2 linked regions of the Homo sapiens genome follow. The protein of the gene in region 2 interacts with the protein of the main gene of each other region in a pairwise test. Each region holds a gene or a part of one and is shown on either strand. Other genes may lie near its edges. The genes, in order: BDKRB2 and CD82.

Region 1 (3,812 bases), on a different chromosome or scaffold from region 2:
TGTGCAAAATGCCCCAAGCACTGCACTAGGCTCAATAAACATTAGTAATTAACAATTCTTGCAAACCCATTAAAATAACCAGTGGTAAACTCCAACACCACCGTTTGTTGGTGACCTCATCTTTAACCCACTGGCTCCTCTTTCATTCTTAGGCAAGACTCACAGACCATAGGGCAGGCACCTTTCTAGACTTGTTGCTGTAATTCATCTCTACCTTCAGCAGAGGCGTGGGGCTTGGACAGCCATGAGTTCCACTCCTAGCTGTGTGGTCTTGGGCAAAATGCTTGACCTCTCTGAGCTTCTATTTTGCCTTCTTTGGAGTAGGGTATTGCTCTCATCCTGAATCGCTTTGCATTTCTTTTTTCATGGCTGTTGCAACATTCAAGCTGAAGAGTGGATGCGAAGACACACTGAAAAGTCCAAAGCACAACCCAGAGGGCAGGACTCATTGGGCATTTTCCCAGTGCCCTGTGCTGTGGGTGAGAGAAGGAAAAGGGGCTCTTTCTGGAAGGTCCACTGATAGTCAGGCTCATGGAGGAAGAGCTGAACTACGAGTCACGGGAGAGATACTGATCATCACCTCTGGGATTTCCCAGGAAAAGTCCGTTTGCTTCTAGGAGCAGCTGGCTGGCATCCTGGAGCCAGACTGGGGGACCCACAAATCAATGCTTCTATCCTTTAAATGTTTTTTGAGCGTCTGCTCTGTGCTGAGCTCTGCCCTGAGTGCAAGAACACAAAGAAGACACCACCCGGCCCCTGCCCTGCCTGACTCCTGACAACTGTGGCCCAGAGGGTGGAGGGTGCCCTGGAGGGAGCAGGGGGGTTGTGGGACACAGACTTGGAGAGGGGGCTGGTGGGTAAGGGGTTGGAGGTGACTCTAGAGCTGGGTCTTGAAGGATAAGAAGCATTTTGACGGGACAAGAAGGAGGACAAGTGGACCAGGCAGGGGGAACAGCCTGAGCAGAGGCACAGAACTGGGGAAGCTGTTGGTATGTTCTGGAAAGTGACACTAGATGTTGGACAGGAGAGGTGGGAAGTAGCAAGAGGTTGAGTGAGGGAGTAAGCGTGGTCTTCACTGGGTGCTAAGGAAGTGAGGCTTTGCCCCTGAGTCTTAAGGAACTACAGTGATGGTATAAGAAGTATGCTCTAAAAAGATCCCTGTGGTGTGTGGTGGCTTTCATATGCCCCCCGAATTACTTGATATTCTTCATTTCAAAAGGAGGAATCTGCTTCCTCTTCTCCTGGACGTGGGCTGGACTTCTTACTAATGGTGGCAGGGATGGTGTGTGATTTCTGAGGCTAGGTCATAACATGCTTTGCAGCATCTTTCTTGGCCTTTTGCATTGCTTACTTGGAAGGATGTGAGCCGCCATGTGAGGATACTCAAGCAGCCACATGGGGGGAACCAACTTGCCACCTTGAAAGTGGATCCTCTGGCCCCAGTTACGCTTTTGGTGGCTCCTGGTTTCCTAGCCTTTGAATCTTCCAACCAAGGCCCCAGACATCTTGGAACAGAGATAAGCTGTCTCTACTGGGCTCTGAATTCTTGACCCATGAAAACTTGCAGCCTCCTTTCCAGAGTCCTCTGAAGGTAAGACTTCCCCTGGGTAGTCCCCTTGGTCCAACCCTCAACCCCATTTCTGTAGCTACAGAAAACCCATTTCCTGCATACCCCTGGCTTGGAGAGTCTGTCATCTTTCATGAGCTAACTCACTAGAGACCAAAGTATAGCACCAGATGCTGCTTATTAATTTCTCAGCAAGACAGTAGCCAAGGGGATGGATCCTGGCCCATCCCTGGCTCTGAGAAGCCATCGGATCATCAGAAAGATGCCTGCTGAGTGCGGAATTGGAAACTATAGGTCCAGTGCACTGTGGCCCCAGCTGAGATGGCCATCTGCTCATCTTCATCATAGGCAGCACCTGCAGCAGGGTGGAGAGGTTGGAGTGGACCCCTCAGCCTTGTTTCTTGCAAATGCTGTCCCCAAGAACAGATCTCCCTATCCTCTGCTTCTACTCTGGCTCAGGTCCTCCTCCCCCTCCCCTTAAATTCTCTCTTTAGGGTGTTCTGATCTCCCACCAAATGTCAGCCATGTGTTGGAGATATTTTGTCTCCAAGGCAATCTGGCACATTGCTGTCTGATCCACTGGGTATTTACTTTAATGTTTAACTCTCTTCCCTTCACTTCCAAGTTCATCTGGGATAGATCACATATGACAACCAGGAATGTGCCCTTCTTCTCCCTGAGCCCCTCTTCCTCTAGTTCCGCAGAACATTCCCTCTGCTCCCAACAGGCCTACAGGGACTTGGACACCTGAGAGGTTTTGTCTTTGGGCTTAACATCACTGGTTCCTTCAACTGTTGTCCGGGGCATGAGAGTTGAGCTTTCCAGGGAGTTCTCCAGGGTGTCTGCCCACCTCCCCTAACTAGTGAACTGAGGAATCCCTTTGACTCACCTGAAAGAGGCCGTGGTGGGCACGGAGTCCTCACGAACAGACAGAAACATTGATATCTTCCAGGGAGAGAACATTTGGACTCAGAGTGGGATGTGAGTGAGGCCACACCTGGGCTGAACAGAGAAGAAAAGATGGTTAGATGGCACAGGGGCTGGGGATTGCAAAATACACGCATTCTCCAGCAGGGAGGAGAAATGGAGACTGCTGAGTCCCTGACTCAATGGACGTTTGTGAAGTGCTCCCACACAGCGGTGCTAGGGATACAATGGCTAGGAGCTGACAGTCTACTGGAGAAGCCAGACATTGCTCAGTCACTTAATAACTGCAAACTGACCTGAGTACAGTGAAAAATCAAGCAAAAGGTCCTGTGAGAGCATAGAACATGGGGTCCCAAACGCGCCTGTGAGGGCGAGTGGATTATTGATGAGAACACTGAGGGTGAGCAGAACTAAACAGGGTGGAGGGATGATGGTGCAGGAGGATATCTCAGTCAGGAAGGCGCTTGGTGTGAATATGGATTAGGCCCTGGCTGCTGCTCAGGAAGTCAGGACTGCAGTGGGGGTAGAGTGGAAGCAAGGACCAGTTAGCCCATTAGCTTCGACCTGGGATGATGGAGACTGAGAGACTGGATTCCAGAGGAGTTTAGAGGGTAAACCTGACATGCCTAGTGCTTGATTGGACATGGATGGGGTGAGGACAGGGGCGAGGCAGGTGTCATGGCTTCCATCTCCTGCAAAGGCAGAGATGGGGGGCTGATTTAGAGGAGAAAGGTCATGTGTTTAGACTGGAACTGTTAAAGGCTGGAACTGTTAAAGGGGAGGTTCTTTGGAGAATTCCAGGCAGGTGGGGATGGGGATGGCTGTTGGGTCCAGCAGGGTCTGGAGCTCAGAGGAGGGGTCTGGACTGGAGCACTGTGATGGAGACAGGGTCTCGAGGGACTTTGAACCTAATAAGGGAGACAGACACATCTGAGTATTTCCAGTCCCTCCGGCTGGTTACCAATACAAGGTGCTGTCAAGTTCTCAGCCCAGGGCCTCCTCTGTGCCCCTAGTTGAAAGGGCCTTTTTGCCCAAGGGGCTTCCATTGACGACCCTTGTCTCTACCCCTCTTCAAGTTTCACATCACTCCCATCCAGGGAGGGAGGCATGGGCTCTGTGCTTGCCTCACAGAGGAGGAAACAAGGCGCAGATGGGTGGGGGTGACTTGTCTCAGTCCCATGGCTAGAGGTGGGGCTTAATCCCCCCTCTTTCCCTTCCAGACTTCACACTCTCTCCAGGACACCAAGTGACCCCTGTCTAGGAAGGGTGTGGAAAGCTGTGGTCTATGCATGTGCAAGTGTGTGAGTGCAGGTGTGTG
Region 2 (3,812 bases):
GCAGGTGTGCAGGGCACAAGGAGAATGGACGGCAGACAGTTCACAGTGCAGGGTTTAAAGTCAGGCTACTGGGTTACAATCCCAGCCCTGCCGCCTACCAGCTGAGCAACCTCCATCAAGGAACTAGCCTCAGTTTCCTCATCTGTAAATGGGGATAATTAAAATCCCCAACTCACAGGGCTATCACAAGGACTAAATGGGATGAGGCAGGCAAAGTACCAAGCATAGGTGTGGGGAGCACAATAAGCTTAGGAAAGGCCGTTCAACTTTAGTGCAGGAGTTGAGATTTGCCTCTGAGCTTCCTGGTGAAAAGGAAAAAAAGTGAAAAGTGAAAAAGGAGACGGGGTCAATTCCGCCTTTTTTTTTTTTTTTTTTTTTTCTGAGACAGAGTCTTGCTCAGTCACCCAGGCTGGAGTGCAGCAGCGTGATCTTGGCTCACTGCAACCTCCACCTCCAGGGTTCAAACGATTCTCCTGCTTCAGCCTCCTGAGTAGCTGGGATTACAGGCACTCGCCATCACGCCCGGCTAATGTTTGTATTTTTAGTAGAGACGGGGTTTCACCATGTTGGCCAGGCTGGTCTTGACCTCCTGACCTCAAGTGATCCGCCCGCCTCGGCCTCCCAAAGTGCTGGGATTACAGGTGTGAGCCACCTTGGCTAGCTGGTCAATTCTGCCATTTTAAAGGAGAAAATGCTCTAGTTCTAGAGAGAAGAAAGCCTTTCCGGGCTCTGTGTGCTAAAGGAGGTCTCTGTGTGTGAATCCCCGCAATGCTGGGGGTTCCTGGGAGGATTCAATGGGATAGCCACGGTCACAGCAGGGGTCAGTTCCTGGACCGCTTCCTTCCTAGCTCCGAGGGGTGTCGCCTGACCAGTAGCCAGTGGCCAGCAGGGGGCGTGCCAGGCACACTCAGAAATGCTCAGCTCCAGGCAGTTTCTAATCCAGGTTTACAGGTGCTTGTTCCAGCAGCCGGGCTGCCTCCTCTCTCCAAGAAAAGGCTGGCACCTCTGAGGGGTGCACAGGTCTGCAAGGCTGGGGGCACCCACAGGCCATCCTACACCAGAGCAAAATGAGGCAGGTCTCCTTGGCCCGTCTACGACAGAGCCTCCTTCCAAGCAACCCCTTGGCCTGACTCCGGCTGTACCTGGTCCCCAGCAGCACACGCCACCTCCGCCTGTGTCTCCATGGATGTGCATGGTGACTAAAACATCACCACCAACATACCACATAATAAATGCTGCCTAAGTGCTTCAGGCTTTAACAATGTATCTCACACGGCATGGGTCAGTAGCCCCATTGTATAGATGAGGAAGCAGGCTCAGCAAAGGTCTAGCGGCTGTGGCAGTGTTAGCACTCCAGGCCTTGGGAGTCTGACTTACCACCGGCCTAAGCAGCATCTGACAGCATCAGAATCATCTAGAACCAGCCAATGACTTTCCAGGGTAGGATGCTTACCACCTCCCAAGGGACCCACTTCTCCTCCCAGGTCCCTTGTCAGGTGGCACTGGTTTATGTCACTGGTGACATCCAGACTTTGCTAAAATTAGCAAAGTCTCAGCAATTGTGGGTCAAACTACATATGCGACCAAAACATTTCCTTGTGTGCACCAAGCCTTCCAGCTGCCACAACCCCCACACCTGATCTCCTCGGTCAGGGCCAGAAAACATCGCTCTCCCCTTCCTCCACTGAGAAAATGGCCATGTCCATGTCACCTAGATGGAGTGTCCTCTCTGCAAACTCTCCTGGTGCCGCTGAGTCAGGCTTTCTCCTGCTGCCCATGCCCTTTGTACTCCACATCCCTCCCCTGAGGTGTCAACAGGCCCTAAGTGACCACTGTGTCCTGCGCCCTCACAGGATTGCAGATCAGAGATGTCAGGTCCCAGCCAAGGGCACATGCAGCATCCGGGACCACAAGAAAGGAGAGCCAGGTGGTCATTGGATCACTATTGAGACAGGCTGGGAACCTGGTCAGTCTATCTGTTGGTCAGTCGGTCAGTCCGTCCGTCCATCTGTCCACCCATCCATCCATCCATCTCTCTCACTTTAATGGAGGTATAATACACATGAACTAATGGGCACACATTCAGCTTGGTGCATTTTTACGTATGTGCACATACTGGCGAAACCAGTATCAAGATTTGGCTAAAATACTCCTTTTGCCCTAGAAGGCTCCCCAACACCTCCCCAGCTAGTGCCCTTCCCCAGAGGCAGCCTTCACTGGGACTTCTCAGCATATCAGCCTTGGCTCCCAGTTTCCTAAAACCCAGAGTGGAGCTCCCAACGCTCCCCAGTGTAGCTTGAGATAAGAGGGCTGACAACTGCCCCCATGCTCTCTGGCCACAAATGGGAGCACAGAGCTGTGAAGCTGCCTCTGAGTCTCTGGGCCCCCTGAGCAGGGAGTTGTGGTGCTAACTGGGGTGCCCTGCCCCCATAGAAGCACACTCTCCTACAAACTGTCAGGCACACACGAGCACTGCAGATGCCAGTCCCAGACATGTGGGTGCACAGAGCCCCAAATGCAGGGACACCCAGGCCAGAGAGCCTCCTGCAGCCCCGCCCCACCTCACCTGAGCCTGCACGTAGTCCCAGGCATCCTGCAGGCTGTCCTCGCGACTGCTGTTGTAGTCTCGAATGAGCTCAGTCACGATGCCGCCCATCTCCTGCTTCAGCTGCAGGGGGGAGGACAAAGGTCAGGGTCAGATTTCCTGAAACCCGTGCCCACCTGTGGTCACCCCTACTTAAACTGCCTCCCCCCGTTCCCCTCAGCAACCCTGGGACACGCTCATGGCTCCAGCCACTTTCCTGGCGCTCCCAGGGTGCCCGATGCAGGCAGTGCCAACCACTCCTGCCCCACTATCTCTTCTGCGCTTGGCAGCAGCCTGGCCCTGTAAACATCAATATTCTCATGTCACTGCTGAAAACCCCGTAGGGGCCTCCCACCTCCAGGGCAGTTCCCACCGTCATTGTCCCCATAACAGCCTAGGAGGTCCTACACCACTTGTCTGCCTCCCCAGGCCTTCTGTCCTCTGTTCTTCCTCCCTCTGCTTCAACTGACTAGATTTCTGTGCTGTCTTTGTGCCAGGCACACTCCTGCCTTGGGGCCTTTGCACCTGCTGTTCCCACCGCCTGGAATGCTCTTCCCCTAGACATTAACATGGCTCACCCTCTGCTTCCTTCAGGGCTCTGCTCCAATGTCACCTCCTCAGAAAGGCCTTACCAGACCACTCTACAAAATATCAGCCCTTCCCCATCCCCTCTCCCCCAACCAATCAACCACCCCTCCCCGGCCTCCCTTATCCCACAAGGGAAAGCATGCTGTATTTCTCTTTAGAGCACTGACGTTACATGCTTGTTGGTTTTCAGGGCTTATCATCTCTCTCCACTAGCACATCAGCTCCGTGGGGGCAGGGACCACATCTGGCACGCTCACTACAGGGTCCCCCGTGGCTAGCGCCAAGCCTGGCACAGAATAGTTGTGTGGGGTACGTGAATGCTGAATGCACACCTAACCACCATGGTCTGCCAGGCACCAGAGCCAGACCCATGCAACTTCTTGGTGAATCCTTACACCTCCCACAGGGCAGCTTCAGGGAGAAGGAGGGACAGGGAGGAAAGCCCAGCTCAGTTTCCTTCTTCCAAGGACCAGAGTGCAGCCTCTCCAAACAGGGCCCCCAAGACAGCAGGGTAGATGCCTGGAGGGGGCCCCAAGACTGAGGGACCTGGAACTTCGGTATCAACTATATGGTCAAAAGATCCTCCCTCTATGTAGTCATGGTGGTGGGTGCCCGTAATCCCAGCTACTCAGGAGGCTGA

What was found.
Region 1: the proteins of CD82 (region 2) and BDKRB2 interact in a two-hybrid assay, tested with the Homo sapiens proteins (one large-scale study listed by BioGRID and IntAct).

The regions. Positions count from the first base shown.
Region 1 is NC_000014.9:96,235,826-96,239,637, reverse strand, and holds part of BDKRB2 (B2 bradykinin receptor), read right to left. Parts: intron 2,570-3,812; 5' UTR 2,531-2,569; coding exon 2,457-2,530; intron 1-2,456. UniProt on the Homo sapiens protein: Receptor for bradykinin. It is associated with G proteins that activate a phosphatidylinositol-calcium second messenger system.
Region 2 is NC_000011.10:44,614,128-44,617,939, reverse strand, and holds part of CD82 (CD82 antigen), read right to left. Parts: intron 2,669-3,812; coding exon 2,567-2,668; intron 1-2,566. UniProt on the Homo sapiens protein: Structural component of specialized membrane microdomains known as tetraspanin-enriched microdomains (TERMs), which act as platforms for receptor clustering and signaling.